Linked DNA regions of Homo sapiens. The protein of the gene in region 3 purifies or fractionates together with the protein of the main gene of each other region. This does not show direct contact. Each region holds a gene or a part of one and is shown on either strand. Other genes may lie near its edges. The genes, in order: THUMPD3, PJA2, IQGAP3, CCDC85C, AP3B1, NCKIPSD and RAB3GAP1.

Region 1 (4,465 bases), on a different chromosome or scaffold from region 3:
ATCAAATTGTAGTTATAAAGGTAACAGCTAGAACACACACACATAAACCTTCCAAACTATTAGAAAACACAGGCATATGAAAAAAGTAAAGACATAATGTAAAGATTTTTCAAATTAAGAAAAAACAAAAAGTATGAGCATGACAAAACTAAGACTAAACAGTTGTCATTATCAATAAGTATCAATGGGATAAACACAAAGATGACACTCAGTTTGAATATGTACAAGAATTTACATAGTGTATTTGTTGCACCACTGTAATAGCAAAAGAATGTGAAAAACCCTCATGCCCTAAAATGGGACTGGTTAAATTATTATACAGCCAAACAATGGAGTATACGCAGCCAATTCCAGCAATGATACTGCCAGGATCTCCAACATATAGGTTGAACATTCCTAATCTCAAAGTCCAAAATCCAAAACCTAAAATTTTTTTGAAGTGCCAACATGATGCCACACAGGTAGCTGAGATAGTGACACCTTTGCTTTCTGATGGTTCAGTGTACACAAACTTTGTTTCATGTATAAATTATTTTAAAAATCATATAAAATTACCGTCAAGCTATACGTATAACGTATATATGAAACAAATGAATCTTGGATTTATTTATACATAGGTTCCACCCTCAGAGTATTTCTTTCTTTTTTTTTTTTTTTTTTTTTTTTGAGACGGAGTCTTGCTCTGTTGCCCAGACTAGAGTGCAGTGGCGTGATCTCGGCTCACTGCAACTTCTGCCTCCCGGGTTCAAGTGATTCTCCTGCCTCAGCCTCCCGAGTAGCTGGAATTACAGAAGCCCGCCACCGCACCCGGCTAATTTTTGTATTTTTAGTAGAGATGGTGTTTCACCACCTTGGCCATGCTGCTCTCAAACTCCTGACCTCATGATTCACCTGCTTTGGCTTCCCAAAGTGCTGGGATTACAGGTGTGAGCCACCATGCCCAACCCAGAATATTTCAAAAAACAAACAAACAAAAATCCAAAACATTTCTGGTCCCGAGTATTTCAGATAAGGGATACTCAACTTGTATATGAAAAAAAAGCATAGCGCAGAAAAGTATGTATGCTATGCTTTCATTTGTGTAAATAAAATACATTTATTCGTAAAATATCTCCAGAATAATACCCAAGAAATTGCTAACAGTTGTTGCCTCCAGGGAGGGAGCTGCATAGCATGAGGATATAGGAACAAAGACTTACTTTTCACTCTATATCCATTCAGTCTTTACAAGTTTGCTCCAAATACATGTATTAACTAGTCTTTAAAAACCCATATAAATCACAGATTTGTTCATACTTTTAAAAAGGCAGATGGAGGCCAGGCGCGGTGGCTTACGCCTGTAACCCCAGCACTTTGAGAGGCCAAGACAGGTGGATCACGAGGTCAGGAGTTCAAGACCAGCCTGGCCAAGATGCTGAAACCCCGTCTCTACTAAAAATACAAAAATTAGCCGGGCATGGTGGCATATGCCTATAGTCCCAGCTACTCGGGAGGCTGAGGCAGGAGAATCGCTTGAACCCAGGTGGCAGAGGTTGCAGTAGGCTGAGATTGTGCCACTGCACTCCAGCCTAGGCAACAGAGCAAGACTCTGTCTCAAAAAAAAAAAAAAAAAAAATATGCGCGGGTGGAGGTGGGGAATGGGGGCCAGGTGCAATGGCTTACACCTGTAATCCCAGCACTTTGGGAGGCTTAAGTGGGAGGATCACTTGAGCCCAGAAGTTTGAGACCAGCCTGGGCAACATAGTGAGACCCCATCTCAATATTTTTTAAAAGAGGGGGGTGGGGACTAATAAATTCATGATTATCATCTGAATACTTAAGAGAACTCATTAGAATTGCTTTAAGCTTTTCTAAAAGTTAGATTTTTACTTAATACAATTTTTATCTATTTTCAGTCTGACTTTTTTTTTTGAGATGGAGTCTCGCTCTGTCGCCCAGGCTGGAGTGCAGTGGTGTGATCTCTGCTCACTGCCAGCTCCGCCTCCCGGGTTCACGCCATTCTCCTGCCTCAGCCTCCTGAGTAGCTGGGACTACAGGCGCCCACCACTACGCCCGGCTAATTTTTTATATTTTTAGTAGAGACGGGGTTTCACCGTGTTAGCCAGGATGGTCTCGATCTCCTGACCTCATGATCCACCCGCCTCGGCCTCCCAAAGTGCTGGGATTACAGGTGTGAGCCACCACGCCAGGCCCTTAAGTCTGACTTCTTTTAGGTCTGGTCTTATTGTTTTCTAGGCTGAGGGTTCATACAACTTTGACTCGTTTTTGAATAACGTTTTGGAAATCAACATGCTTGCCAATAAATAAAAGTTAGACAATTAGGTAGCGTATCACAGTTGTTTTTAAAAAGATTATTTCTAAGATACGTAAAACTGATAGAAAAATGTTTTTAAGCGGTTAACTCTAGAAACCTAACCAAAAAGCAGTGTGGAAAAAACCTAAAGCCTTGCTGCAATCTATTTTCAACCTTCAGCTTAGGCAGCAGCTGAATATTTAGGATTCAGATGCTAAATACATATTGGAGACAAAGCTGTTGTCCTAACAACTGAAGGAGTATTTAGATGTTATTTTGGCTTTATTTCAAAAAATGAAGAAAGAGAAGAAAGCAGAGCAAAAGCAGGATGGTGAGGAAGTGTTATTTGTAGAAGACACAAACTGTCACTTGTTCTTTGGTTCATGTTCTGGAAGCAATTCTCTTTTGGAACTAAATATATGTAAAAGCAAAGCAAATCTAAGGTTTATATCTCTTACAAGTAAAACAAGGTGTTTTCTTCTTTCTTATAAACTTTAATGGTTTTCAATACTAATTTTCAAAAAACATCTTTTGGGATAGACTGTCAGCAAAACTCTAGATTTTACTGTAAAAGCCTCCCAGTATTCTCTATTACAAAGACTACAGTAATGCTAAACTTTCACAGACTATGAAAAATGGAAATAATCTCTTTGTGGAAGACAGCCAAAAATCAGCCACCATGTTTAGGATAGCTCACCTTTGTTTGTTTGAACTGGTAATCTTGAAACTCCTGAACCACCACAAATAAGTTATCAACTGATCTCAGACAATGAACCTGGGTGAAAAAAAAAGAAACACATTTCTGAGAAAGCTTTTGAACAGCACAAGCTATCAACAATTAAGTATTTAAAAAATTAGGAATGATAGTTTTAAAGCAGCTACTAACTATATTTTGTATTTTTAAAATGTCCCATCTCCCTAGTTTCTCATCTCTTTGGTTACTAATCAGCTTTCCCCTAGAGAAAGGGAAAAAGGGCAGATGGAAAGAGAGAAGCATGAAGTGTTTTGTGGGCAACACGTCTTTTGTGGGAGAAGAGAAAGGTGAAGCCACTCAGGTGGGCTGTATCATATTTCCTCGATGACTTTCTAGGGTACACTGTATGCTGCAATGGTTAAAAGCAGGGGATTTGAGCTCCAGTTCTGTGATTACTAGCTGAGTGGCCCTGGGGAAATTATTTATGTGTCCTAAGCCTAATGATTAATGAGGATAATAATAGTGCCTATCTTCACAAAGCTGCTGAGGGTATTGGCTAAAATATTGGATGGAAAACATTTGCTTACCAATTCATCCCACAGATATTTTCTGGGTACCTACTATATGCCAGACACTAAGAGCGTGGGATATATTGGTGGAAAAAAAAATAGACAACAATCCTTGCCCTCTCACTGCTTATGTGGTAATGAGATATATCAGCTTTATGATAGTGAGATTGCAGTTTTCTGACCTTCACTTTTTACCTTGAGTGAGTCCTAATTACTTCTGAGCAAGAATTTTTGATGCAAATTAAAAGGAAAATCTCTTTTATGTTTCATCACCAAAGGTTAAACATCTGCTATATGCTGAAGTAAATAAATACTGAGATACTTAGAGAATTTCTTAAGTTGAACAGTATTCTTTCTGGTGAATTCAATCCTCAAGAAATACTAGATCACCTCTAAAAATGTAGCAATCCTACTACAGGTTGAGCAGCCCACATCTAAAAATCTGAAACTTTTTGAGCCCCAACACAATGCTGAAAGGAAATGCTCAGTGCAGCATTTCGGATTTTCAGATTAGAAATGCTCAACTGGCAGGCCGAGCGCAGTGGCTCAGGCCTGTAATCCCAGCACTTTGGGAGGTCGAGGCGGGTGGATCACGGGGTTAGGAGTTCGAGACCAGCCTGGCCAGGATGGTGAAACCCCGTTTCTACTAAATATACAAAAATTAGCCAGATGCGGTGGCGGGCGCCTGTAGTCCCAGCTACTGGGGAGGCTGAGGCAGGAGAATTGCTTGAACCTGGGAGGCGGAGGTTGCAGTGAGCCAAGATCGCGCCATTGCACTCCAGCCTGATGACAGAGCAAGACTCTGTCTCAAAGAAAAAGAAAAAAAAAAGAAATGCTCAACTGGCAAGTATAATGCAAATATTCCAAAACTCCCCCCACCCCCCTCCAAAAATCTGAAACACTTTTGGT
Region 2 (4,465 bases), on a different chromosome or scaffold from region 3:
CTCAAAATGCATTCTGAATACTACCATCACTTCAATTTACATATCAAACAGTATGTTTATAGTATTACTCCAAAAAACCTTCAACAGCTCTTTTTTCTAATGCTACTGCTTTAGTTTCACAAACAAGCCATTTGCCTATCACTCTCACAATTTTTGCTGCAGTTGCACATTAACCCTCTGTCTTAAGGTACGATAGTTGAGAATACAGGTCCTGGTCAGCTTGCCTGGAGTTAAACCCACCACTTATTAGCTATGAAAACCTCTCTATGCCTTTTTAGCCTCACATATCAGGTGAATACAACAACAGTATTTAATAGTTCACTGGGTTCATGTAAAGGGTAAGTGAGTTAATATATATAAAACATTTTCACAATGCCTGATAAATAATGAGCCATCAATAACTGTTAGCGAGTCTTTTTTTAACATTTTTTTAAACTCAAATACATTTAGTTAGGATAAGCAATAGCCATTAAGTCCTGAATTTGATGTGCTACCTATATTTTCTTAATTTCCATTAACATAAATACATAATGATTAAATTAAAAACATTGTGTACCACTTAATATATTTTACCCACTTTGGAAATAGTGACCTATAGAATAAAAAGTTAAATGTCTTTGAATAACACTTATAATTTACTGCTATCTGATCCCAGTACTTTCTTGCATCCAACTCAAGAATGCTCTATTTCAAACAGTGTCCTCAAAGTGGGCATTCTTGCCATCAGGAATATCTTTATAATCACTTCACCTTTTCCCCACTTCCAAACACAGATCAGACTCTATTTCTTTCAAGACCTTCCTGTATAAAATCGCTTCTTTTGTTTTTCAATTATTTCATGAACTAGACTTCTTGTTTACTCAGTGCAGCTCACTACAACACAGCTGCTTCTTTAACATTGCAATTATTTTTCATAATAGTGCAGAGAAATCAAAGAAAATGGGTACTGAGAAAAGACAAATGGATGTGGAAATCAGGAGGTCACCACTGACATTAAAGAATATAGGGCCGGGTGCAGTGGCTCATGCCTGTAATCCCAGCACTTTGGGAGGTTGAGGCAGGTGAATCACCTGAGGTCGGGAGCTCGAGACCAGCCTAAGCAACATGGAGAAAACTGGTCTCTACTAAAAATACAAAATTAGCTGGGTGTGGTGGCGCATGCCTGTAATCCCAGCTACTCAGGAGGCTGAGGCAGGAGAATCGCTTGAACCTGGGAGGTGGAGGTTGTGGTGAGCCAAGATGGTACCATTGCACTCCAGCCTTGGCAACTAGAGCAACACTCCGTCTCAAAAAAAAAAAAAAAAAAAAAGAAAGAAAGAAAAAAAAATTAGCCAGGCATGGTGGTGCACACCTGTAGTCCCAGCTACTCAGGAGGCTGAGGCAGGAGAATTGCTTGAACCCAGGAGGTGGAGGTTGCAGTGAGCTGAGATTGCACCGCTGCACTCCAGCCTAGGTGACAAAGCGAGACTGTCTCAATAAAAAAGAATACAGAAATAATATTAGGAATTAGATTTCAAGGCAGTAAGAAGAGTGGATAGTGACAGAATAGAGACAGTGGGTATGGAAAACTTTTTCTTAAAATTCAGCAGTAGAAAAGAAAACACAAACAGGCAAATAACAGAGCAAGAAAAAGTAAAGGTTTTCTTCAAGATTGAGAAAAACTCAAGGTTGAGAGACAGAGGGAAGCAACCTGTGAGTAAGGACAATTAGATGAAGTGTCAGAAATAACTAGAGGCACAGAATGAGAGGGGCTACCTCTCTTCATTGAAGAGGAAATTAAAAATACAAATAAATACTACTATCCCCTAATATGGAGAAGAGGAAAATAAGAAAATTCACATTTACATATTTTTAACTTCTACAGGAAAATAAGAAACGAAGCTAACCATTAGGAGTGACAGGAGTACATGGAAGGAAAAAAGGGAAAAGATTTAAAAATCACTTTTTAAGGAGTAAGCAACAGAACAAATAGGACACAAAAATGATCATGGAACAGTGAAGATCCATTTGTTCTAGATTTTAAAAGCGGGTGAATGACACATTTAAAAGTTCTCAAAGTAAAAACTAAATTAAGTACTACTTTGATCTTCATATGATCCTTCACTGGTACTGATCCCTTTTAGCACCTAAGAGTTGTATTTAAAAAGCAGACAACTATAATTTACTCAAATGTTACACTCTACACATTCAATTGTGAACTAAAAAAACTTGATATACAGAATGAAATTATAGACAAAATTTATGTACAAATCCTAGGCAGAAATAAGCTATGGAAACATAAAACCAACCAAAAGTAATCTCTCATTCCATAATTCCCCAAGGTACTTGTTACTTTGTTCTTCCTGGCATTTATCACAGCCACAAGAAACTCAACTACAGGAGCCTAGGAAAAAGTGAAATTTTAAATATTTTGTTATCTGACATAATCTAAACATTCTGGAACTTTTTACCACTATTAACACTGAACTGTAATGTAATACAGTGATATGAATGGATTATGTCCAAATATATAAGTCTGCTTAATTTCATTAAGATGGCTATGATTTTTGCATTGTGCCTGCTTTTTGTCACTTTCTGGTCTTTTTCCTTAGTATCAGGTTATTGTAATCCCATGAACTCCCTAGCATATCTGCAGAACAAACACATTTATACCTAATGTGCTCCTTCCAAACTTCTATGAACTTGAAAACAAGATAAAAAGGTTTGCTAAAATGTCAGCACATATGCTTTAAGATCTGTGCCTTGGCTGCATATAGATGTTTTATTTGTTGGGGGTAGTACCAAGTTCTCAGACAAACTCTTTCTTTGTGGCTCTCAGGTAACCTACACGGAACAGGAAAGGCGCTTAATTCAGCCTCACAATAATAAATACGTATATTTTGTCTTCTTCATAAAGCTAGTGAACCTTGTGGGAACAGGGACCATTATGATTTGTATTAACAGGGCACCTGGAACAAAGTCTGGCACTTAAGATTTCAACAAATCCTTTAATATATCATATTGAAGTCAACTAAATGGCTAACAATCATTTTATTTCCCAACATCATCAACAAAGTAAGTTGTCCCAACATTTTACCTTAAGTAAGGTTTTTAAATTTTAAGCAAAGTTAAGTCCTAAGGCCACAAAAATTCTGCAAGAAACCTCAAATGCTATAAGTAAGGAACAGACAGTAGATGGCATGCCTCTCTTCAGAGCAGTTAGGCCCAAGGTTAAGATATGCTAGTATTGCTGAAAGGTTTTTTTTAAACTCAAGATCTTGTCCTCAAACAGTTACTAAACTTCTCAGGGTATATTTCAAAAGAGCAGGGTATTAACCTTAGCTCTTTGGTCTAATTCTAAGTCTGGTAATTATATGCTGCCTATTAAAATTCCCCTTGGAATCCTAATTTAATAAGGTGGTGCTCAGTACCTGTCAAACAGCTCAGAGCAATGCTACTGGCTGCAATGTTTATCCCACAGAGTGTAACATTTCAGATGTGATTAAATGATCATTTAGAATTTTTCAGGGAAGAAGGCAATCATGAATTCATTAAAATACTTTTCTACTTAAAAAGAATATATAATTCATATTTTTAAAAAGTAGCCAAAATTCCTATATCTAAAAATGCTGGCCGGGTGCAGTGGCTCACGCCTGTAATCTTGACACTCTGGGAGGCTGAGGCGGGTGGATCACTTGAGGTCACAGGTTCAAGACCAGCATGACCAACATGGTGAAACCCCATCTCTACTAAAAATACAAAAATTAGCTGGGCATGATGGCATGCCTGTGGTCCCAGTTATTCAGAAGGCTGAGGCAGAAGAATCACTTGAACCTAGGAGGCAGAGGTTGCAGCGAGCCGAGATCACGCCACTGCACTCCAGCCTGGGCAACAGAGAGAAACTCTGTCTCGAAATAAATAAATAAAAAATAAAAAAATAAAAATGCCACAATGAACTTTAGTTATATTCTTGATGAGTTCTACTTTGGCTATTATAAGCATGACAAAAAAAAACTTTTCAAGTATATCAACTTTTTAAGCTTTACAAAAAAACTCAAAGTTCACAGGCCCAAATTAAGCAGCAGCTCTTATACTTTCCATCCAAAACCTGAGAAGACTAGCATCACCATCTCTCCAATCTACAAATACAAGAACTAGGGAGGATGACAATGAAACATCAGGGAGATGAACAAGGGCAAAATGAAACTAAATAGGAGTGTACAGCTATTAAATTCCAACCTTTAGCTGGCACCATATTAAAAAGGCACCCTGGCAACTATAATCCTTTGCAGGGAATTAGGGTAGAGGAACAGGACACAGCAGCATAGAAACAGAGTTTCTGTTCAGAAATAGAATAATCTGTACAGAAAACTGTACAGACACTTTGAGATCGTAAAACATATCTTAAGGCTATGGATAAAAATATAAGTACAGTCCTAGGCAGAACCATTATCCTTTAGAATTTATTCTATGATTCTTTAAAACA
Region 3 (3,500 bases):
CCTATGACTTAGCCAGCTTCTTAACCTTTTAGCCTAGAGCCTGTAAAATAGGGATAATACTTCAGAGCTGTGGAGAGGATTAAAGGAGGTAACATGTAAAGTCCCTGACATGTGATAGGGCTTCAAATATTAATCCTGCTTCTGACACCAGTAGCCCACTCCACTCTCCCTGATGCTTGCCAGTGGGGTCTGTGTCAGGGCATGGGGAAAGGGGGGCTTGGGCTGCACAGACCCCCACCCTTCTCTTCAGGAACAGACGATACTGATTGGGTGAAAAACTGAGCTGGTGTCATCTGAGGACTAGGAAAGTGAGGCCAGCTGCTCTCTTCAGGCCAGCACCTAAAGCCCAGCAGATGTCCTGCAGGCTCATGGGACTGTCCCCTCACCTGATAGTGAAGCTGAAATCGCTCCATGTCCACACCCAGGAACTTGGCATTTACTTCAAACTTTCCTGCCTCATCTCCCGGCGTGATGTCAAAGATGACGTTTCTGAAGCTGTCAGGAACAGGATTCAAAACAGGAACCCACTGCCTCTTTCCAGGGCTACAGCCACATTCTTGCACCCACTGCTCCTCATCCTGGGCAGCGGTGTCATCCAGAACCAGTTTTCCCTCTGTCACTCCCAGAGGGCCCAGCTCGCTGTCTTCTCCATTTTACTTCTGCTCCCCACACCATCTCTTTATCTGCCCCGCCCTACGCAGCTGTTCTCACCTCTGGAAAGCTTTCCCAGTACCCTCTGCCTCAGGGCATCTAGAACTGTGCTAGACCATGTCCACAGCCCTTCACTTTCTGTCTGGGCATGCTCTGTCTCCACCATCATTCTAGCAGCTCCTTCAAGATCGGGACCATGCTTCTTCTCTTCCACCCGGTGCCCAGCCCAGAGCTCCACCCCCAGGTTAGAGGACAGGAAGGGGCTGACATCCTGCCCTCCAAAGACACATACTGAGAGGCGGGAAGATCTTCAATTTCCACCAAGACACCCTTTTCCAGGAGCTGAGCAGCAGTGTAATGAAGAGAAGGCTGCTTCTTCCCCTTCCCAGAACTCCTGATTAAAAGAAGGCCCCAGAGAATTCATCCAATAAACACTTTACCACCAAAGAAACTTGTTTTCTGTGGCTGGAAAGGAAATGAGACCCCGAGGAAGACTTCTCACTGATGGAAGACAGAGGAGGGGGGCTGCACTTGAGCCCAAGACTTTGTAAATGAGGCTCAAAGACCAGACTTAGGAAGGGACTGTGCTGTGCTGGGTGAGATTCCCCTTTCAAAGCTGGGAGATAGCAGGGCAAAGGTGACATGGGCAGGGGTGAGAAGTCACTCGTAACCTTCCAAGTACGGGAAAGCAGCACCTACTTGGAGTCGGGGGCCAGGTGGTCCAGGCAGGCCCGGATGTACTGGCTGTAGTAGTCACCCTGCTCCTCATAGAAGGTGGTCTTAGTGCTCAGGCCCTGTAATGTGGCCTGCAGCTTCACCAGCTCTGCCTTCCGCCTGTGCCTGTGTCTGTGCTGGTTGCGGATGTCCTGGGGTTGGGGAACAGATGGAGGGATGAGTGGTCCTTCCTGGCAGGAGAGCCTTAGGGCCTGACACAGGCCCAAGAGCTACACACTGTGAGGCTCTTCGGAAGAACAGGCTTCAAGGCTGTTTTCCTAGAAGGAAAATCTCAAGGATGGTATTCCAAATCCTCAAGGCATGTCCTCAGGGCCTCTGCCCGTTGAGGACTAACTGGTTTCAAGGCTGTTTGTTTTTTAGTAAAAGAAAGTTGCAAGGATACTTTTGTAGGTCATAAGCTGAGGATTGGGTTTTCATGCTCTTGTGTGAGATATGCTTCTCTCAAACCTTCTGACCTGGGCACATTACCCAGCTAATGTGGGGAAGAAAAAAAAAAAGAGAGTTGCAAGAACACCTTCCTCTCTAACTAATTTCAAGATCTTTCCTTCAGGCTAGGAGTGGTGATTCACACCTGTAATCCCAGCACTTTGTGAGAGCCTAAGGTGGGCAGATTACTTGAGGTCAGGAGTTTGAGACCAGCCTGGCCAACATGGTGAAACCCTGTCTCTACTAAAAATACAAAAATTTGGCTGGGTGCAGTGGCTCACACCTGTAATCCCAGCATTTTGGGAGGCCAAGATGGGCGGACCCTGAGGTCAGGAGTTCGAAACCAGCCAGGCCAACATGGCCTGAAACCGTGTCTCTACTAAAAATACAAAAATTAGCCGGGCATGGCAGCGCGCACCTGTAATCCCAGCTACTTGGGAGGCTGAGGCAGGAGAATCACTTGAACCCAGGAGGTGAAGGTTGCAGTGAGCCAGGATCACACCACTGCTCTCCAGCCTGGATGAGAGTGAGACTGTCTCAAAAAAAAAAAAAAAAAAGAAAAAAAAATCTTTCCTTCAAAAAGGACCCTCAGCCTTCCTCTGGCTGGTGACAATTTTGGGTGAGGACTCATCAGGAGGGGCCCACCAACACTATGGATTAACATGTATATGCACGCACACACACACACGTACACACAGGCACACGGAGCCCAGGCCCAGGTTGTTACCTTGGCCAGCTCGTCCACTAGCCCCTGGTAGCCATTTCTGGCGCTGACCAACCCCAGGGCTTCAAGTCGGCGTAGGTTCCGCAGGACGCGCCGCTGCTTCTCTGCCAGTGGCAGGAGGGAGTGAGCTGTCAGTGAGCGGTGTCGTCGCAGTGGCTCCGGTGTCTGGGCTGTACAGGCCTGGCGTCGGCTCATCAGCTGCTTGTGGGCTGCTTCCTGGGGACACACAGACGCTGGAGGGGTCTACCAGGTCCTACCATTCTGCTCCCACACCAGTGAAGGTCCCATGGGCACCAGCAACAAAGGGAGGCCTGAGCATTTTTCTGCATATCATTAAGAAAGTGCCCCAGAGCCCAGCCTCTGCAGGATATGGCTGGGGCAGGGCATCGCTTATGAAGAATATCAAGGTATAACACCATAATGCATGGTGTCACACATGGGAGGGCCTCATAGATCACCACAGGGGAAGAGTGGCCCAAAGGAGAACCAAACCCAGGCCATGGCATAAAGGATTCCGGACAGACACTAGCTGTGACTTCCCAACAATGGATCTTTCTGACGGCACAGGATGTTTGGGGGCATTTACCTGTCTGTTCTGTTTTGGGACATACCTCTACTGGCCATCCCCACCTTTTCTTTGGGAAGACCCTGGTTCAGTCTTCACTCCAGCGGGCCCAACCTGCCCCTGGCCCCCCACCTGCCTACTACCTTCTCCTGCCTCCAGGCATTCTAGCAGACCACTCTTCTGAGTGCAGGCCTTCCAGGGGAGCATTCCCAGACGGTCTCTCAGTGCCCCCCATAGCCCTAGTGTTGGTGCTTGTTTCAGTGTGTGAAGTGGGGAGAGGGGTGGGGCCCCATGACTCTGTAGCCCGAGGCTTCCCAAGGCTAAAGCTGTATCCCTCATCCTGTAGGCCTCCAGAGTTCTCATTACTGGTGAGCACAGGTGTCTGCTTCTGGCTGATGT
Region 4 (4,483 bases), on a different chromosome or scaffold from region 3:
CCTCTGCCGCCCAGGCTCGAGCGATTCTCCTGCCTCAGCTTCCCAAGTAGGGGACTACAGGCGCCTGCCACCATGATTGGCTAATTTTTATATTTTTGGTAGAGGTGGGGTTTCAGCATGTTGGCCAGGCTGGTCTTGAACTCCTGACCTCAAGTGATCTGCCCGCCTCGGCCTCCCAAAGTGCTGGGATTACAGGCATGAGCCACCATGTCCAGCCCAGTTTTTTTTACACTGTGTGAAAGTTTCTAAGATTTTAAAAAACTTTCATGAGAAAATGCTTGGGAAACTAAGATTGAAAAACCTTAGTCTTGCCATGTAATTTGGAATAATAATTATAGAATCATCTCTGTATCCTATAAAATAATACCATGCTTCTAAATGAAAGCCAGTGACCTGTGGGTCTCTGCACCTGTTGATGAGATTTACAGTCCTCTACAACGCCCTGTCTTTGATGCCAAACAAGGAATTCTCTCAAATTGTCCTCCCCGCACACAGTGTCTTGGTTGTGGTTTATGTTGTCTTTAAGCAGTAGGTACAGTCGGCTGTACAGGGGCTGAGTTCAAGACATTAGTTAGAGAGTATCATCAAAGAGGACATTCCATTAACGATAGCAACAGTAAAATATCCAAGGTTAAACCTTGTGGAAACCTCGTTAGTGGGGTGGAAAGGACTTTAAAACAACTAAAGGACTGAAAAGATATTAATAAATTTTTGGAAGGAAACTTCAATATGGTTAAAAATCTCCATTCTCCCTAATTATTCTATAAATCCTCTGAGTTTCCAATGAGAATATTAATAGCATGTATGTTTTCTGTAATGATACTAAGTAAAATGGTTACTAAAATTTGAGTGAGGGGGACATGCAGAACCCAGAAACTGTTTGAAAAAGAGAAGTAATACTGGAGCTATTGTATCCCACCCAAATCCCTTTGATCCTGGTCCAGGAGTAGACAGGCAGATCAGTGAACAGAAAAGATAGTGTGTGTGTAGGCAGACATACACACGTAGTTTAGGAGGTGATTTAGGTAGCATTTTAAATAAAATTGGAAATGATCATTTATTCAGTAAGTGTTGTTGGGATGATTTATTTCAAATAAATGAAAGATTTAAACACAAAATTGATTTGCCCCCATTTGCACGTAATACACTATATGTGTACATGAGTATATATACACACACATACACACACACTGGTACAATTTATCTCTGAGTTTTCATGAGGCTGGCTATCATAAACTCTTTCTTGCTTAAAATGTTTTCAATGAAAATTCCTAAAAGATTGCATTTTTAAAATTTGAGGTCTTGAAAGAAATTACAATTTAGTCAAATTATCAATAACGTAAAGATCTGTTTTGTAAAGGGAGACTCATGTATGTATTGAAAATAATAATATTTTTAAGGATCTTTTGTTTTCAGTATTTTTTTTTACATTACACCTCTGCTTTGTCTTCCTGTTTGAGATCTTTTCAGAATTTATCAGTGTCTCTGAGCATGTTAAAAGTCTGAGTGGGAGAGAAAGGAAGGAAAGGCAGTTGCTAAAATATAACTTGAAGAGAGAATAAATAGACAGGAAAGCTCACTTTTGTAATGCTGCTTGAGACCTGCAATTGTAATTACTGTCCTAACATTTGTGATTGATTTTTAGGAGGAAGTAATGGTTCTGGAGAGAATCTTACTGCAGACCATCAAGTTTGATTTACAGGTAGAACATCCATACCAGTTCCTACTAAAATATGCAAAGCAACTCAAAGGTAAGAAGAAAGTTTTCAGAAGAATTTTTTCATTCTGAAATCAAGTCTTTATAATTTGATGACACTCAAATTACGCTTCTCAAAAGCGGAAAACAAAGTTTGATGTGTGAAATACCAAGGGCATGGCTTGCTCAGTCAATTCAGCATTGCAGCTGCTAATGCTGTTTCCTTTTATGTATAAACAGGCTCTGTCATCCAGTTGCCAAGTGATGGGAGAGGCAGGAAAATGAGGCAGAATTTTTTAAATGGACTAATAAACTTAGCCTTGGAGCCAGGTTTTCCATACATGGTGGTTCAGCGTAGGTCATGAGGAGGAAGAAGGGGTAGGATGTGGACCCACATCATTCATCCTTGTTTCCCACGCAAAAGCTCTTTGCTGTGTATTTGAGTGGTGCTGAACACGTGGTAGGTTTTTAATAAATACTTGATGCTGCCTGTGAATTTTTCTATTGCTATTAATTTACCTTTTTGTCCCCATTTCTAGGTGATAAAAACAAAATTCAAAAGTTGGTTCAAATGGCATGGACATTTGTAAATGACAGGTATACATGTTCAAATGTTGATTAATTACAGTATTTTAAAATAGGCAGAGACTTTATGGACCATTTCATCTAAACCCCTCATTTTGTGTCAGAAGAAACTGACTTGCCCTGGCTTGAGGAGCCAGTTAATGGCAAAGCTGGGGCTGACGTCCAGGTCATCTGCTTCCCGGCAGAGGGTTTCCTTCTGCCCTGCCGTGTCATGGTGTTGTGAGGTGCTGAAATTTTATCACCAGTCTGAAACATAAGTCCAAAACAATACACTGGAGAATTTTGAAAACTAATTACTTAGAGCCCATTTGGTTTTGCAAAAATATACTTCCTGGTATAGTTTTAGAGCCTTAACACTCTTTTGAGAGGCCAGGGATCTAATGAGGGGCCGTGGTGGGAAACAGAATGCCTGTGAATGGAGTTGCTGCCAGCCCCATCCCACTGCAGTCAGTGAAGCTTCTCTTACATTTGACTTCCTCCATAAGATTTCATTTGAAGAAACAGTTGAGTGGCTAGGATTTCAACAGTTTAAATAACATAAGTCATTTTCATTGGTGTAGCAATTTTTGGATGTGCTAGAATTCTTCTGATTCTTTAAGGAATAGAGAAATTACTAACTATGGTTAAAGTAACTTAGTCGGGTACCTTTAGAAGAGTAAAGACTTGAGTTTATTTATTTATAGTACTTTAATTAAATTTAGGGGAGAATAAGCAAATTAATGGTTAGTTATGGCATCTCCATGCACTGGTTTAATCATAAATATTAGATCATATTATCTAACCTTTTTTTTTCTTGTTGAACTAGTCTCTGCACCACCTTGTCACTGCAGTGGGAACCAGAGATCATAGCAGTAGCAGTGATGTATCTCGCAGGACGTTTGTGCAAATTTGAAATACAAGAATGGACCTCCAAACCCATGTATAGGAGATGGTGGGAGCAGTTTGTTCAAGATGTCCCGGTCGACGTTTTGGAAGGTACCAGGCATGCTAAGCGTTCTCGTGAGGGTGTTCCATGTTGAGATGATTCTTCCATGTGTACCCTGAGTCCCAAGAATGGATTTTCCCAGATAGACATATGTGAGCAATATTTCAGAAGCATCATTAATTAAATTATCTAATAGTTTCCACTTTGTCCAAACACATACTTTTGGTAAACTAAAAATACACACCAGTGTTGCACACAACGAAGATGGGGTGAGTTGTAAATGTGATTCATGCTTAGGTCCTCGTAGGGGTATCATAACTGATTCTTTATCCAGGTAAAATTTTATTTAAAATACCAATTTGTGTAAAATGTAATTGTTGGCTATCATTTAGACATCTGCCACCAAATCCTGGATCTTTACTCACAAGGAAAACAACAGATGCCTCATCACACCCCCCATCAGCTGCAACAGCCCCCATCTCTTCAGCCTACACCACAAGTGCCGCAAGTACAGCAGTCACAGCCGTCTCAAAGCTCCGAACCATCCCAGCCCCAGCAGAAGGACCCCCAGCAACCAGCCCAGCAGCAGCAGCCAGCCCAACAGCCCAAGAAACCCTCTCCGCAGCCCAGTTCTCCCCGACAGGTTAAGCGAGCCGTGGTGAGTGGGCTAAAGCAGGCCCTGGGTAGAGCAGGCTTTCCAGGTGGCGGCAACACCTGAGCACTGTTCCCATTTCTAAGCGAGCACAGGGAACACCGGAAGCAGGGGGTGTTCGCCGAAACTCGCAGTCCGACTGCTTGTCGGTGGGGAGCCTGAAAACAAAGGTGCTCCAAGGACAGGCTGCCTCTGAGAACCAGGAGGGGGCTCTCTGCCCGGCTCCAGCCCTGCTGCCTGTTTCATCCCTGCCAGGGTTCTGAAGCCTGTCGGTGTCGTTGCCGTGTCCTAGCAGTGTCGTTGTGCATGCTGCTTCTGTGCAGCTGCCTGACCCCAAACAGTGGACCGTTTCCTGCACCCAAGTGGTCCTGAAACTTAGTGTTTACTCAGAACTCACCATTCAGGAAAGCTAGTCATTCTGTCTTATTTGGTAAATGGAAAGAGGAAGGGAGCAGAAATGATGATCTGGTAGGTGCCGTGGTTTGCCCTGAAAGTTCAGGCTAGAAATAATTTTTGTCCGAGGCTGTTCACAGTGACTGCCGTCGCTGATTCTGGTGGTACCTGGATAATCCATTTTTTTCTCATCATACTCAGGATCCCAGTTAACAATTGTGTATTTTCTTTT
Region 5 (4,465 bases), on a different chromosome or scaffold from region 3:
GTCTATGGAGACATACAATAGATGCAAAAATATAAACAGGCTGAAAGTAAAAGGATGGAAAAAGATATATAATGGAAACAGCAACCATAAAAAAGCTAGAATAGTAGTATTTATAACAGGCAAAACAGACATTAAAACAAAAAAATGTTACTAGAGATAAAGAGGAACATTTTACAATGACAAAAGGAAGATTAAAAAAATTATAAACATACATGCACCAAACATCCAATCTCCTAAATAGATGAAGCAAACACTAACAGAATTAAAGAGACTTCAATACCCTGTTTTCAATAATGAATAGAACAAGTAGGCATAAGATCAGCAAAGTAGAAGATTTGAACAACACTAAAAAACAGATATCTATAGAACACTCCACTCAACAACAGCAGAATACACATTCTAATCAAATGTTTATTGAACATTATCCAGGATAGATCAAATGCTAAGCCATAAACCAATAGTTACAGCTACACAGGGCTACTGCCTACTGTATTAGATAGCTGCCATGCATAGATAGTACATACTCCCTGATGATAGCATCCTAAGATGAGCTGGAATCCTTTTCCTCAGTAGTTTTGAGAAATATAAAGTGGGTACAAAAGCCCCATCTAAGATACTAGTACACTAGTAACTCACATCCCCCATAGGTCACCTCTATTCCTTGATCTTACCATGTTAACCACTTAGCCACAGGTTAAAGATTTTTTTCTCAACTTGCCTTTTTTCAGATTCTGATGAAGAAACACATAACGATCTAAAACTCCAAATGCAGTCTTTCTCATTACATGAAAATTTTTGTTCTTTAAAAATAGTCCTGTGTGCCATTAATATTTATACCATTTTGAAATCAATAAATACAACTATATAAAATATATAATGGTAAATGATACTATGTAAATAAAGTACATTTTTATGTCAAAGACGTAAAAAGACATTACTTACTGTGCTTTTATCTTTCAGAAGTTTTTCAATTACTTCAATTAACATTTCCTTCTGCTCTGGATCAAGGCTAAAAAATACAAAAATAACATATTAATTTTTCCCTTTAATTCTAGCTTTACATGATGCTCACCAATTCAAGGATGTTGAGAAATTTTTAAAGAGGGAAAGGAGAGCAAGAATTATAAGTTAGAAATAAAGAAAAACAAATAAAATGGGATGGTTTTTCTCATGAATGTGTCCTCATCTTTCCCTCTAATATTGTTCATATTAACTAAACCAGATATCAATGGTTTAGTTAAGATAGTACTGAAAGAACAAGTTCACTTCTAAAAGAGTTGGAAAACTTCAAGAAAGCGACTGTAAGTAGATAAACCACAAACTCTTTTCAACTGGGAGGAAAAAAATAACTAGATAGCAGTCATTATTTTACTATGCATACATACTTCCCAAAAACAAATATGGAGAATTTCCAAATAAGAATTTTATATCATACTAGTTCACTGATAGAGACATGCATTATAAAATCTGCCAACTAAAACTAGGAAAAATAAGAGGTAGTAATAAGCTTAAAACATTTGAGATAGAATACTAACAGACTATAAGCTCAAGGCAAGGAGAGGCAAGCATTGAGGCTGGAATATACTGGTGCCCAATGATAGAAGGACTTTTAAGCCGTTAGAGTGAGCATGGATCTTATCCCATAAGTTTCTAAGGAGAAAAGGTGAGTGAGAAGCATGATAAAACCTTGTCTGGCAGTTAACATAGGAATATGAGGTTTCACTTTCTACAAACATACACATTTATTACTAAACATTATAATTATCTGGACAAACTTTTTAATTCTTTCAAATTTCAGCTTAAGTCTTCCTTCTCAAAGCAGTATTTCACTACCAATCCCATCTCATTACATCTTTACTTTCCGGTAACAAAATATGATCATCTCTGGTCCCTGTCCTATCAAAGACATTGCTAGTGTACCTTTGTATATACATATATATCAAGTGCTAATATCTTATTCATTATAGATTGCCTTTAATTATTTGGTATGTCTTTGATCTTCTTCCTCAAATACATGATATGCTATTCATAATTAAGTGCCACATCCTCTACTGTTTTCATACATCTAAATACACATAGCACAATACTGTGAATACAACACCAGAAACAGAAGAGAGTCTCAAAAAGCTTGAGGAATAAATGATAGCTGAAAATAATACCAAATTGTTGTAGACAATTCTATTTGGACAGTAAATTTTCCACAGAGATCAGGGCATTGTATAATATTGCATAACATTTCTAAAATATCACACAGATATGGTATAGCACACTATATTTCAAATCACTACACTTTTTAAAATTACTTAATAAAATAGCTCTGGAAAAGAATTAGACAACGAAGGGAGCAGCAGGAACAAAGATGGAAGAAAGGAAAACACATATAAGTGAGTTGAGAGGATCAGACACTTAAGATTCTACCCTAAACAGGAAAAAAAAATCTCAATTTTCTAATAATACAAGCATATGTGTACATGAGATAGACTATATAAATGAGAATTCAAATTCTGATTATTCTTAAGTTATAAAATCTATAAATTATCACAGGCTCTAACAGCCTCACAAATAAAAACCTGCATAGGGTCTCTATAGCCAAAACGAAATTAAAGATGTGTAAGGAACATTTGCAGCAGGGGGAAATACCATCATACAGTCACTGGATTTACTTAGTGTAAGAGCAGCCTACCTAAAAGAGCGAATAAAACAAGCCTCTGTGGTCTATAACATTCCATGTAACATCAGAGATCTTTGGTATATTGTTAACAATGCACCTACCTGTATAATTTTTGTATTGCATGGGCTGCATTCTTCCTAACATATGGTGATAAGTCAGCAGAAGCTTCCTTAATAGCAAGCATCATGATAGGTACAATAATTGGCACTCTAATACTTGACAGAACTCTCAAAGCGCTTGCACGAATTAGTTGGTTTGGGTCCTAAAAATAGTGCAAAAATATTCACCAAAATTTCAACTTTACAATATTTTAAACATATCTTTCAGACACAGTTAATAGGTGCTTAAAGGGTGTAATATGACAATAGCAAAAGAAAGCTACTTAATTTAAAATGAACAATTAGTATATAGGAATGGGAAAAAAAGACAGACATAAATGTTTACTTCTTTAATAATGTTTTAAAGAAAAGTAATAGTTATAATTCTAGTTGGTCATTTATTACTAAATATGCTGGGTTTTTATACTTTCATAATAATAAAATGCTGCAGGTCATCAATTTCATGTTTAAAAATGTCTTATAACCCCTTTTGCGTACTTTCAACAACTAGTATAATGATAAACAGCTCTTTGAAGCATGAAAATAATTATATTGAATATAAACAAACATACAGAAGCTGTAACATATACAGCAAGGTTTCAGTTGGTTGTATAAATTATTTTCTAAGTGTACTGAGTAGGCACTATAGGAGGCTTTTAACTCTTTCAAGACACTACTGTGCTATTTAGTGGATTATCGCTCCACTTCTTTAACTGACACACTTTCAACTCTGCAGAAACCTTGTAGCTATTTGCCTACTCACTCCATTATTTACCTTCAGAGCTCGCTGAAAAGTGCTTATGGACAGGAGTGCAAGATCCTGCTGTTCTTCAGCATATCGAACCAGGTAAACATATACCAACTTCTTGATCTGTTAAAAAAAAATCATTTATTCATAACCAGAGTGAAAATTTAAAACTCAGTATTTGCTATACCAAAATCCATGCTCAATTCTTCTCAAGTAAATAACTGAATCTGGTCACATGTTAGATTGTAAAATAAAAATAATATTTTGTGGGATAATAAGTACAACAGGAAAAGCTTTTAAAGTAAGCATTTTAATAGTCCAGTTCACAATAGCAATAGCCTATCAAAGTGTCCCTTCCTCTTGAAGGGAATAAAAAATCCCTGAGCAGATCTCATATAAGAATATTAACTAAATTGTAAAAATATTTTCAAAATGAGGGATAAAAATAAAAGAAAGAAGCCAGGCATGGCGTACATGCTTGTAGTCCCAGCTACACAGGAGGCTGAGGCAGGAGGATCACTTGAGCCCAGGAGTTAGAGGCTATCCTGGGCAACACAGAGAGACCCTACCTCTTTAAAAAATAATAAGAGAAAGAATTTGGGCCCAGGCCACTAACTATATGTTATGGGAACTTGTTTCCTCATCTGTTAAAAGAGTCCAGAGCCCTAACTCTGATTTTTATGGTAATACTCACATTTCAACACGCATTACATGATATTTTCAGTCCAGTAAGAATAATGTGTGACTATGAATACCAATTTAACGTAATAAAAATTCAAGAAGATTGGATGTGTGTTCTGGAAACAGTTTTTTTTGGTTTTCGATTTTTTTTCTGAGACACAGTCTTGCTTTGTCGCACAGGGTGCAGTGCAATAGCACAATCACGGCTCACTGCAGCCTCAACCTCCTGGCCTCATGCCATCCTCCCACCTCAGCCTCTCCAGTGGC
Region 6 (4,465 bases), on a different chromosome or scaffold from region 3:
GATCTATATATATATATCATATATATATATATATATGATATATATATATATATATCATTTTTTTTTTTGAGACAGGGTCTCGTGCTGTCACCCAGGCTGGAGTGCAGTGGCATGATCTTGGCTCACTGCAACCTCTGACTCCTGGATTCAAGTGATTCTCCTGCCTCAGCCTCCCAAATAGCTGGGATTACAGGCATGTGCCAAAATGCCTGGCTAATTTTTGTATTTTTTTTAAGAAGAGACGGGGTTTCGCCATGTTGGCCAGGCTGGTTTCAAACTCCAGACTTCAAGTGATCCACCCACCTCGGCCTCCCAAAGTGCTGGGATTACAGGCGTGAACCACCACGCCCGGCCAGCCCTTATGACTTGACAGCTTGTTCTCACAGAGACCCCCAGTCCACTGACCTGATGTCTGCTTCCCTCAACATCCCTCATTTCTCTTTTTACCTTTAATTAGAGAAATAATACCAAAACCTCCTTTAGGCAGCACACCCTGCTAAGTCCCAGCCCTGGGAGTCATACTGAGGTGCCTGCACATCAAACACCAGCGTCTAAGCTATAGACAAATGCAGAGCCATGTGCAGGCCTGAATGTCATTCACCACCGCAAACCTCAAACGGACACACAGCACTGCCTGAGCCTCCCACTGCTTTTCTCTGCTGTGTCACTCTCCCTTAGAGTAGTAATAATGTCCACCTTCTCTGTCTTTGAAACCTACCTACCTTGTCAGCTGGCCTTGTGCTTCATAGAGAATACAGAAGTAATCTTGCAGAAACCCGTCTTTCCCCTCAGTACCCACATCTCACCTGTCCCTACCAGAATGAGCAGCCCTAGCTCCTGTCCATGTGGGCCTGGACCTGAACTCTCCCCTCCTGCCCCATCCACTTGACTCCTGTGGTGGCTCACCATCTCCAACACATCATCCATCTCTCTGTGCTTGCTGGATCATTCCCTCCGGCTCAGAACATGCACCATCATCCGTACCATTTTTGTTTTTGTTTTTTAAAGAGACAAGGTCTGGCTTTGTTGCCCAGGCTGGAGTGCAATGACACAATCATGGCTCAATGCAGCCTTGACCTCCTGGGCTCAAGTAATCTTCCCACTTCAGCCTCCAAAGTAGTTGGAATTACAGGTGCATACCACCATGCCCAGCTAATTTTATTTTCTACTGTGGTCCATCAGGTTATACAGAGGTCTCACTATGTTGCCCAGGCTGATCTTGAACTCATGGACTCAAGTGATCCTCCCACTTCGGCCTCCCAAAGTGCTGGGATTATAGGCGTGAGCCACTGCACCTGGCCAACATCCCCCATCTGTCACCCAAGCTGGAGTGCAGTGGTGTGATCTTGGCTCACAGCAACCTCCACCTCCCGGGTTCAAGCAATTCTCCTGCCTCAGCCTCCCAAGTAGGTGGGATTACAGGCTCCCACCACCATACCCAGCTAATTTTTGTATTTTTCGTATTTTGTATTTTTAGTAGAGACCACTTTGACCAGGCTGGTCTCGAATTCCTGACCTCAAGTGATCCACCCACCTCAGCCTCCCAAAGTGCTGGGATTACAAGCATGAGCCACCGCGCCTGGCCAACATCCCCCATCTTCAAAACACTCTCCCTGGCCAGGCACGGTGGCTCACACCTGTAATCCCAACACTTTGGGAGGCTGAGGCAGGTGGATTGCATGAGGTCAGGAGTTCAAGACCAGCCTGGCCAACATGGCGAAACCCTGTCTCTGCTAAAATATAAAAATTAGCTGGGTGTGGTAGTGGGTGACTGTAATCCCAGCAACTTGGGAGGCTGAGGCAGGAGAATCACTTGAAACCAGGAGGCGGAGGTTACAGTGAGCCACGATCGTGCCACTACACTCCAGCCTTGGCAACAGTGGGAGACAAACAAACAAACAAACAACAACAACAAAAAACCCCCAAAAAAACACTCTCCCTATCCCCATGTCATCTCTCTCCAGCAACCTCCCTTCCATTTTTCTCTTCCCCTTAATAGAAAATTCACAAGAGTTGTCTCCATTTACTGCTTCCAACCCTCCCCTCATTTCTACTCCCCAATAACTTCAAGCTCTCTCAAACTTTCATTCAGACTCTCCTCCTTGCACCCCACTGACACTGCTTGTCAGGCACCACTGACCTCTGTGTGGTGAATCCAATGGCCAACCCCAGTCTCGCTCAGGCTCCTAACGGTATAGAGATGGCTGATCGTCTTCCTCTAAACATGTGGCTTTGGGCTCCTGCTTTCTTGGTTCTCTTCCTGGGTTTCTCCCTAGTTGTTTCAGCTGTGCCCAGGGCTGCAGCCCGAACTTCCCGCTGACCTGCCTATCTATCTCATTTCTGAGGCAATCACATTGTCACAGGCTTCCCATCGTATCTCTGCATAGACCACTCCGAAATGTCTCTCTAGTCTCAACTCATTCCCCACTGCCTCCCTGATGCCCTCGGTACCTGGGTGTCTAGCAGATATCTCCTCATTCTTGACACATTCAAAACACGACTCTCTATTTTCCCCCAAGAAGTTCTCCCAGCCTCCCCAACTTCAAAAATCAGCACTTCATCCATCTAGCTGCTCAAGATAAATCAAGTGGCAAGCCCTGCCAGATCCACTTACTAAACACTCCACAGCTGGCCTCTTCTCGCCACTGCCACTGCCACGACCTATCCCATCCCCACCCCATCCATGCCACCTGGACCACTGAGGCTGCTTCCTCCCTGGCTGGCTTCCACTCTGCTGGCATGCAGTTGATTCCATGTGGGATGTTAATCACATCACATTCCCCGGTCCTGAGATCACAACCTCTTGCAGCAGCCTCCGAGGCTTTGTGTAAACTCCATCCTCCATGCCTCATCTCCCTCCACTCCCTCCTCTCCAGCCTCCTCCAGCCCCACCACCTCCAGATCACCTCATGGCTGGCTCCTTTGGGTCTTGGTGCACCTATCATGGCCTCCTACACTTACCTGGCTCCAGCAGTGGCCTTGCCCCCTCATCTCCACTCAATGTCATGCCCCCCACCATTTTGTTTCAGTTTCCACACAGTGACCCCCGCTGCTGCAGCCACCTCCAGGCACCTTGTCTCCTGGTGACAGGTCTGCGATGTGCCGCACAGTGATGTCAATGAGAGCCATCATGTCTGTGTGGTAGAAGATGGCAGCTGTGGCCGGGCTGCCAAACACGTCCTGCAGGAACTTGAGGACAGAGTGTGGTGGCTGTGGCTCATGTTTGAAGATGCGCACAGGGTCATCTAGGAGGCAGGGGTCATAGCGGTCAGGGTGGACCTTGTGGGGATCCCAGAGTCACCCCAGGGGGTTACGGGAGTCATTGCAGGGGTCATGGAGTCACAGGGCATGGAAGTGGTACCCGCGCAGATTCCCGGGCCCTCACCCCCTCTGTTCAGGAGCAACAACAGCTTCTCGGAGAAGATCTTGACATTGGCGTGTTTGCTCAGGGCAGCCATGATGACATTCTGGTCAGCAGCTAAGGAAGGACATGGGTATAGACAGGGTGCTGAGCCTGAGAGCCACCATGTGCTCAGCCACCGCCCAGCCAGGCCCCACCCCACCTGGCAGGTGCAGGTTGAGAGCCAGAAGCAGGTTCACGCAGAGGTCCGGCAGCTGCTCTGTGGTGTCCAAGGGCAGCCCATCCTCGACGATGTTCAGTAGGAACTGGGCGAAAGGCGTGCCCAGGTGCTCTGGGAGAGGGGCGCACAGAAGTCTGCAGCCCCATTCCCCTCCGACCCCCGCACCACCCACCCTTCCTGGCTTTCTGTGAGCCTTGGGGATAGCCTCTCCCTGCTAGGCTGTGTAGTCAGCAGGTCCCAGGCCCTCGGGCAATGGGCCCTGGCTTAGGACCTGTGATCAGCTGGTCGGTTACTGCATTCTTACCATAGTGTGCATAGGGCACTGCCTCTCCCATGGAGAAGACCATGGCCAGGATGAGGGCAGAGTAACAGAGTTTCTGGTGGTCTGGGGGGGACAAGGCAGGCAGTCAGAGTCCCCAAAGATGGCAGGAAACCCCAGCAGATGGCAGGAACACCCTCCAGATAGCAGGAAGTTCCCTCCTACCCCGCCCTCCAGCCTCACCCTGCGTGTCTGTCTGCATGTCCCTCGCCAGCTCTACAGGCAGCACGGATGACACAAGCGTGGAGATGATGGCTGCATCCAGGCTGCACATGGCGCCAAAGCACTTGAGGAGCAGCAGCCGCAGTGATGCTCGGTGTTCCTGGCAGGGAACCCTGCGTGCTCAGTGCCTGGAACTCCCCCACTATCTAGGTCTCTCCATTACCCCTCCCCTCCATCCTGCACATACCATTTGGTAATAGGCCACCAAGGCCAGGACAGACTCGAACTCGTTTCTCTTGCACATTTTCTTGCAAACTTCAGGGTCTGCATCAGTCTACAGAAATGAGGAAGTGAGAGCATCAGCCACCATGAGCGGAGCTGTGCAGCCGCACAAGAGAGGGCT
Region 7 (4,465 bases), on a different chromosome or scaffold from region 3:
AAATTCAACCCAACCCCAATTACAGTCTCAGCATAATCATACTCCTTTTTATAGTAATTAGCAAGCCTATTCTAAAATTCATAATTGAAACACAAAAGATCTAAAATCTTGGGAAAACAACAAAAATGGAGAATTTACATTAACATCAGGATTTACTAAAAATCCATTCAATGGTTCTCAGCTGGGGCCAATTTTGCCCCTCAGCGGGCATTTGGCAATATCTGGATACAATTTTGGTTGTCACAACTGGAAACATGTTACTGGCATCTGGCAGGTAGAAACCAAAGATACTATTAAATATTTGACAATGCATAAGACAGCCTCACAACAATGTGGCCCAAAATGTCAATAGTGCCAAGGTTAGGAAACCTGAAACTACAGTAATCAAGACAATATACGACGGGCGCAGTGCCTCATGCCCGTAATCCCAGCACTTTGGGAAGCCGAGGCGGGCGGATCAGCTGAGGTCAAGAGTTCAAGACCAGCCTGGCCAACATGGTGGCAGGAGGCTGCAGTGAGCCAAGATCAAGCACTCCAGCCTGGGTGACAGAGTGAGACTCTGTCTCAAAAAAAAAAGAAAAAGACAATATGGTATTGACATAAGGATAGTCAAATAGACTAATGAAACAGAATACAGACTCCAGAAGTAGACCACTTAGGTCAACTACTCAATAAAGGTGACAAAGCAACTCAATGGAAAAAGTGTTTTCCAAAGTAGGTTCTAGAACAACAGGATATCCATACACAAAAAAAAGGAAGAAGAAACTTGATCCCTACTTCCCTCCATATAGTAGCTCAAAATAAATCATAGACCTTAACAAAGGTTAAATGATAAATTGGTAAACCCTCTAGAAAAATGCATTAAAAACATCTTCACAACCTAGCAAAACTACTGAGAAAAGACTTAAAAGCAGAATATATATATACCAAAAAAAAACTAAAAGAACTCCTACAACTCAATAAAAACAAAATCCAATTTTTAAAATGGATAAAGAACTTGAAAAGACATTTCACAAAGGAAGATAAACAAATGGCTAATAAATGCATGAAAATTCAAAGTGGTCAATATTAATATCATCACAGAAATACAGACTAAAACCAAAATGAGAAATATAAATTAAAAGCACAAACTACATACCCATTAAGATGACTAAAATATACATGACTGCAAACAACTGATTGTTGGTGAGAATGTATAGCAACACAACCTCCCATGTATTGATGGTGGGCAGGTAAAACAGTACAAAAAGCTCTAGCTGTTTCTTATAAAGTTGCACCTATCCTATTACCCAGTGATTCCAATCCTAGGTATTTACTCAAGAGAAATAAAAACATATGCCCACAAAAGGCCTCATACAATAATGTTCTGCTTTATTCCTAATAGTACGTATGTGGACAAGTGAAAGAAACCATGTATATTCATAAAACAGATCACTTACTACACAGCAATAAAGAGAAATGAAATTCTGGTATGTACAACAACCTAGATGAATCTCAAAAACATTATCGTGAGTAAAGGATGTCAAGGACATTTATGGTCACCTAAATGTAAAGTTCTAAAGCAGGTGACAGTAATTTATGTTTATTTAAAAAAAAAAAAAAAAAAAGGCTGGGCCCAGTGGTTCACACTTGTAATCCCAGCACTTTGGGAGGCCCAGGCAAGCAGATTGCTTTAGGCCAGGAATTGGAGACCAGCCTGGCCAACGTGGTGAAAATACAAAATACTAGAAACACAAAAATAGCCAGGCAAGGTGGCATATGCCTGTCGTCTCAGCTTCTTGGGAGGCTAAGGCATATGACTTGCTTGAACCCGGGAGGCAGAGGTTGCAATGAGCCAAGATCACACCAATGCACTCCAGCCTGGGCAACAGAGCAAGACTCTGTCTCAAATAATAATAATAATAACAATAATAATAATAGCAGATGACTGGAGGGCATGGGAATTAACTAGAAAGGGTCACTAAGGATCTTCCTGGGGTAACAGAGATGACCTCTATCTTGACAGGAGTGTAAGTTATACCCATGTGAACATTTGTCAAAATCAAGCAGTTGGCCAGGCGCGGTGGCTCACACCTGTAATCCCAGCACTTTGGGAGGCCGAGGCGGGCAGATCACAAGGTCAGGAGATCGAGACCATCCTGGCTAACACAGTGAAACCCCGTCTCTACTAAAAAATACAAAAAATTAGCCAGGTGTGGTGGCGGGTGCCTGTAGTCGCAGCCACTTGGGAGGCTGAGGCAGGAGAATCTCTTGAACCCGGGAGGTGGAGGTTGCGGTGAGCTGAGATCATGTCACTGCACTTCAGCCTGGGCAACAGAGCGAGACTCGGTCTCAAAAAAAAAAAAAAAAAAAAATCAAGCAGTTAAGTTTTGTCCATTACAATGTATATAAATCTTACCCAAAAAAAAACTATTAAAAAAATCTAGTGGAGGTAGGGGAGTAAACAGAGGTACCACTCAAACAAGAAATGGCAAAGTATTAATTGTTGACATTAAGTGATGGGTACATGGGAGTTCATTATACTATTCTGTTTACTTCATATATGTTTGAAATTTTCCATAATTAAAGGTTTTTAATAAATAATTTCCCTTAATTCCCCCTCAGTGGAGGAGAAAATTAATAATCACTGTCCTTCATATAAGTTAAAATCTTCAAAGGAAGTCTCTAAACTTTGTTTTCTACACCAAACAATCCCTGTCCTCTACACTTTCTTCATATTCATCATAGTTACAGCTCACCTTGAAATCTGCCCATATTTTCTGTATCTTATTTATGTACTACTATCTAGTAGGGAGAAACAGACTGGAGCTATGACTTCATTAGCCTCTACTACATGCCTGGCAGTATGCTACCTACTTTAAATAACTACCCACTTAAATCCCAAAACTGAATTTAGCATCTAAAACTTTAACCCTTAGAGTGACTTTAGTTAACACTAATTGACTGTACATTTCAAAATAGCTAAAAGAGAGTAACTTGCATGTTCTTAGCATAAAGATAAATATTTAAGGGTTCCCAAGTACCCTGATTTGATTATATGCATGTATCAAATTATCACATGTACCCCAAAATATGTACATCTATCATATATCAATTTAAAAAATAATAATAAAATAAAATTTTAATGTTTCTTTACTGATCACCCTCACTAGAATTTATGTTCAATGGCAACACTGATCTTATCTTGTTCACAATTTCTTCACATCAGGCACATAGCAGGTACTCAGTAAATACATGTAAATCAAAGAATGAAAGAATATCAGAGCTCATAAGTACCCGGTTTAGCTCTCTTCTTAGTAGTGTAAATCATTTCCTATTCTAGCTATATCCAGCTTATTTTGCCTCTAATCTTATTGGCATCTATATCAATTGTTATGTATTTGTTTCAAGTGGAGTAGAATGACCCGTGTTTGAAAGCGTCACATTTTCTTTATTCACACATGTAGTGTAGTAAATCAATGTATATATTGCCAAGAGTCTTTGAATGATGTATTTTTTATATGTGGTCTTACTTTTTCTGTTCATATTGATACAAATAAGGAGATTTTTTTTCCTTAAGAGACAGGGTCTCACCATGTTGCCTGGCTTCCTAATGCATTTTGACAGTCTCTTTTTTGATAGTATCACCATCACAAAGCTGAAAACCCCTAGCAAATATTGAGAACTCAAAGTTCCTAACACAGGGTAAATTATAATTAAATTACTATTGAATTAATAATTACTGAGTTAATAAGTTATCACTGAGTTAGTAATATTGAGTTGTAATAAAACCAACCATAAATTTTATTTCAAAAGAATTTATCTAACAAACTAAGCATCTACATAAACTTAAAATCAAATTGTTAGATCCCTTCACAGTGAATCCAGGTTTGTTCTCAGAGTACATTCTTCAGTAAACATTTGGGGTGTGGTTTATGAATAAAACTACCAATACTTTAGATTAGAATTTGATTTCTACCTCAATTTCAAAGAGTAATTTTTTCATTCTTAAATAAAATCCTTAAAACATCCATAAGTTAAAAAGCTTAAAAGGGAAGGGGGATGTTATTAGTGATATTATAAAATACAAAAACTGAGTGAAATAGTTGTTAACTACAGTAAGTCAATGGTAAGTACTAGAATTTTCCTCATTAGTAAGCAAAATATGCTACCAAAGAAGATGGTCACTGCAATGTTTCTCTGACCAAATAAAAAACTTTTAAAAACATGTTTTAACATTCCAAGGGAGAAGGCAAAAGAGAAGCAAACTTCACTCACAAAGAATCACTCACAAAGAATGACATTTTATATATATATATATACACACACACATATATATAACTTTATTAAACATTTCACAAATGTCTTACATATATCATTTGCCACAGATTTAAATCCAAATTCTTCCAAATGCTATTTGATGTTTATAGATTATACGTAACTTTAAAAAACATTTAATTCAAATGTGCCAAATGCAGCAAAGGGC

What was found.
Region 1: the proteins of IQGAP3 (region 3) and THUMPD3 purify together in Homo sapiens (co-immunoprecipitation; one large-scale study listed by IntAct). This does not show direct contact.
Region 2: the proteins of IQGAP3 (region 3) and PJA2 purify together in Homo sapiens (co-immunoprecipitation; one large-scale study listed by IntAct). This does not show direct contact.
Region 4: the proteins of IQGAP3 (region 3) and CCDC85C purify together in Homo sapiens (co-immunoprecipitation; one large-scale study listed by IntAct). This does not show direct contact.
Region 5: the proteins of IQGAP3 (region 3) and AP3B1 purify together in Homo sapiens (co-immunoprecipitation; one large-scale study listed by IntAct). This does not show direct contact.
Region 6: the proteins of IQGAP3 (region 3) and NCKIPSD purify together in Homo sapiens (co-immunoprecipitation; one large-scale study listed by IntAct). This does not show direct contact.
Region 7: the proteins of IQGAP3 (region 3) and RAB3GAP1 purify together in Homo sapiens (co-immunoprecipitation; one large-scale study listed by IntAct). This does not show direct contact.

The regions. Positions count from the first base shown.
Region 1 is NC_000003.12:9,365,511-9,369,975, reverse strand, and holds part of THUMPD3 (tRNA (guanine(6)-N(2))-methyltransferase THUMP3), read right to left. Parts: intron 3,069-4,465; coding exon 2,991-3,068; intron 1-2,990. UniProt on the Homo sapiens protein: Catalytic subunit of the THUMPD3-TRM112 methyltransferase complex, that specifically mediates the S-adenosyl-L-methionine-dependent N(2)-methylation of guanosine nucleotide at position 6 (m2G6) in tRNAs.
Region 2 is NC_000005.10:109,371,618-109,376,082, forward strand, and holds part of PJA2 (E3 ubiquitin-protein ligase Praja-2), read right to left. Parts: intron 1-4,465.
Region 3 is NC_000001.11:156,527,566-156,531,065, forward strand, and holds part of IQGAP3 (ras GTPase-activating-like protein IQGAP3), read right to left. Parts: intron 2,753-3,500; coding exon 2,540-2,752; intron 1,865-2,539; exon of another isoform or gene 1,765-1,864; intron 1,518-1,764; coding exon 1,351-1,517; intron 1,046-1,350; coding exon 944-1,045; intron 496-943; coding exon 387-495; intron 1-386.
Region 4 is NC_000014.9:99,499,121-99,503,603, forward strand, and holds the end of CCDC85C (coiled-coil domain-containing protein 85C), read right to left. Parts: 3' UTR 3,865-4,483; coding exon of another isoform or gene 3,599-3,864; 3' UTR 3,257-3,598; coding exon of another isoform or gene 3,087-3,256; 3' UTR 2,294-3,086; coding exon of another isoform or gene 2,236-2,293; 3' UTR 1,752-2,235; coding exon of another isoform or gene 1,646-1,751; 3' UTR 1,070-1,645; downstream 1-1,069. Other genes in the region: CCNK (cyclin-K), read left to right, coding at 1,646-1,751, 2,236-2,293, 3,087-3,256, 3,599-3,864. UniProt on the Homo sapiens protein: May play a role in cell-cell adhesion and epithelium development through its interaction with proteins of the beta-catenin family. May play an important role in cortical development, especially in the maintenance of radial glia.
Region 5 is NC_000005.10:78,224,600-78,229,064, forward strand, and holds part of AP3B1 (AP-3 complex subunit beta-1), read right to left. Parts: intron 3,641-4,465; coding exon 3,545-3,640; intron 2,934-3,544; coding exon 2,773-2,933; intron 1,010-2,772; coding exon 943-1,009; intron 1-942. UniProt on the Homo sapiens protein: Subunit of non-clathrin- and clathrin-associated adaptor protein complex 3 (AP-3) that plays a role in protein sorting in the late-Golgi/trans-Golgi network (TGN) and/or endosomes.
Region 6 is NC_000003.12:48,675,492-48,679,956, forward strand, and holds part of NCKIPSD (NCK-interacting protein with SH3 domain), read right to left. Parts: intron 4,397-4,465; coding exon 4,310-4,396; intron 4,223-4,309; coding exon 4,084-4,222; intron 3,967-4,083; coding exon 3,886-3,966; intron 3,693-3,885; coding exon 3,564-3,692; intron 3,479-3,563; coding exon 3,386-3,478; intron 3,246-3,385; coding exon 3,073-3,245; intron 1-3,072. UniProt on the Homo sapiens protein: Has an important role in stress fiber formation induced by active diaphanous protein homolog 1 (DRF1). Induces microspike formation, in vivo. In vitro, stimulates N-WASP-induced ARP2/3 complex activation in the absence of CDC42.
Region 7 is NC_000002.12:135,058,146-135,062,610, reverse strand, and holds part of RAB3GAP1 (rab3 GTPase-activating protein catalytic subunit), read right to left. Parts: intron 1-4,465. UniProt on the Homo sapiens protein: Catalytic subunit of the Rab3 GTPase-activating (Rab3GAP) complex composed of RAB3GAP1 and RAB3GAP2, which has GTPase-activating protein (GAP) activity towards various Rab3 subfamily members (RAB3A, RAB3B, RAB3C and RAB3D), RAB5A and RAB43, and guanine nucleotide exchange factor (GEF) activity towards RAB18.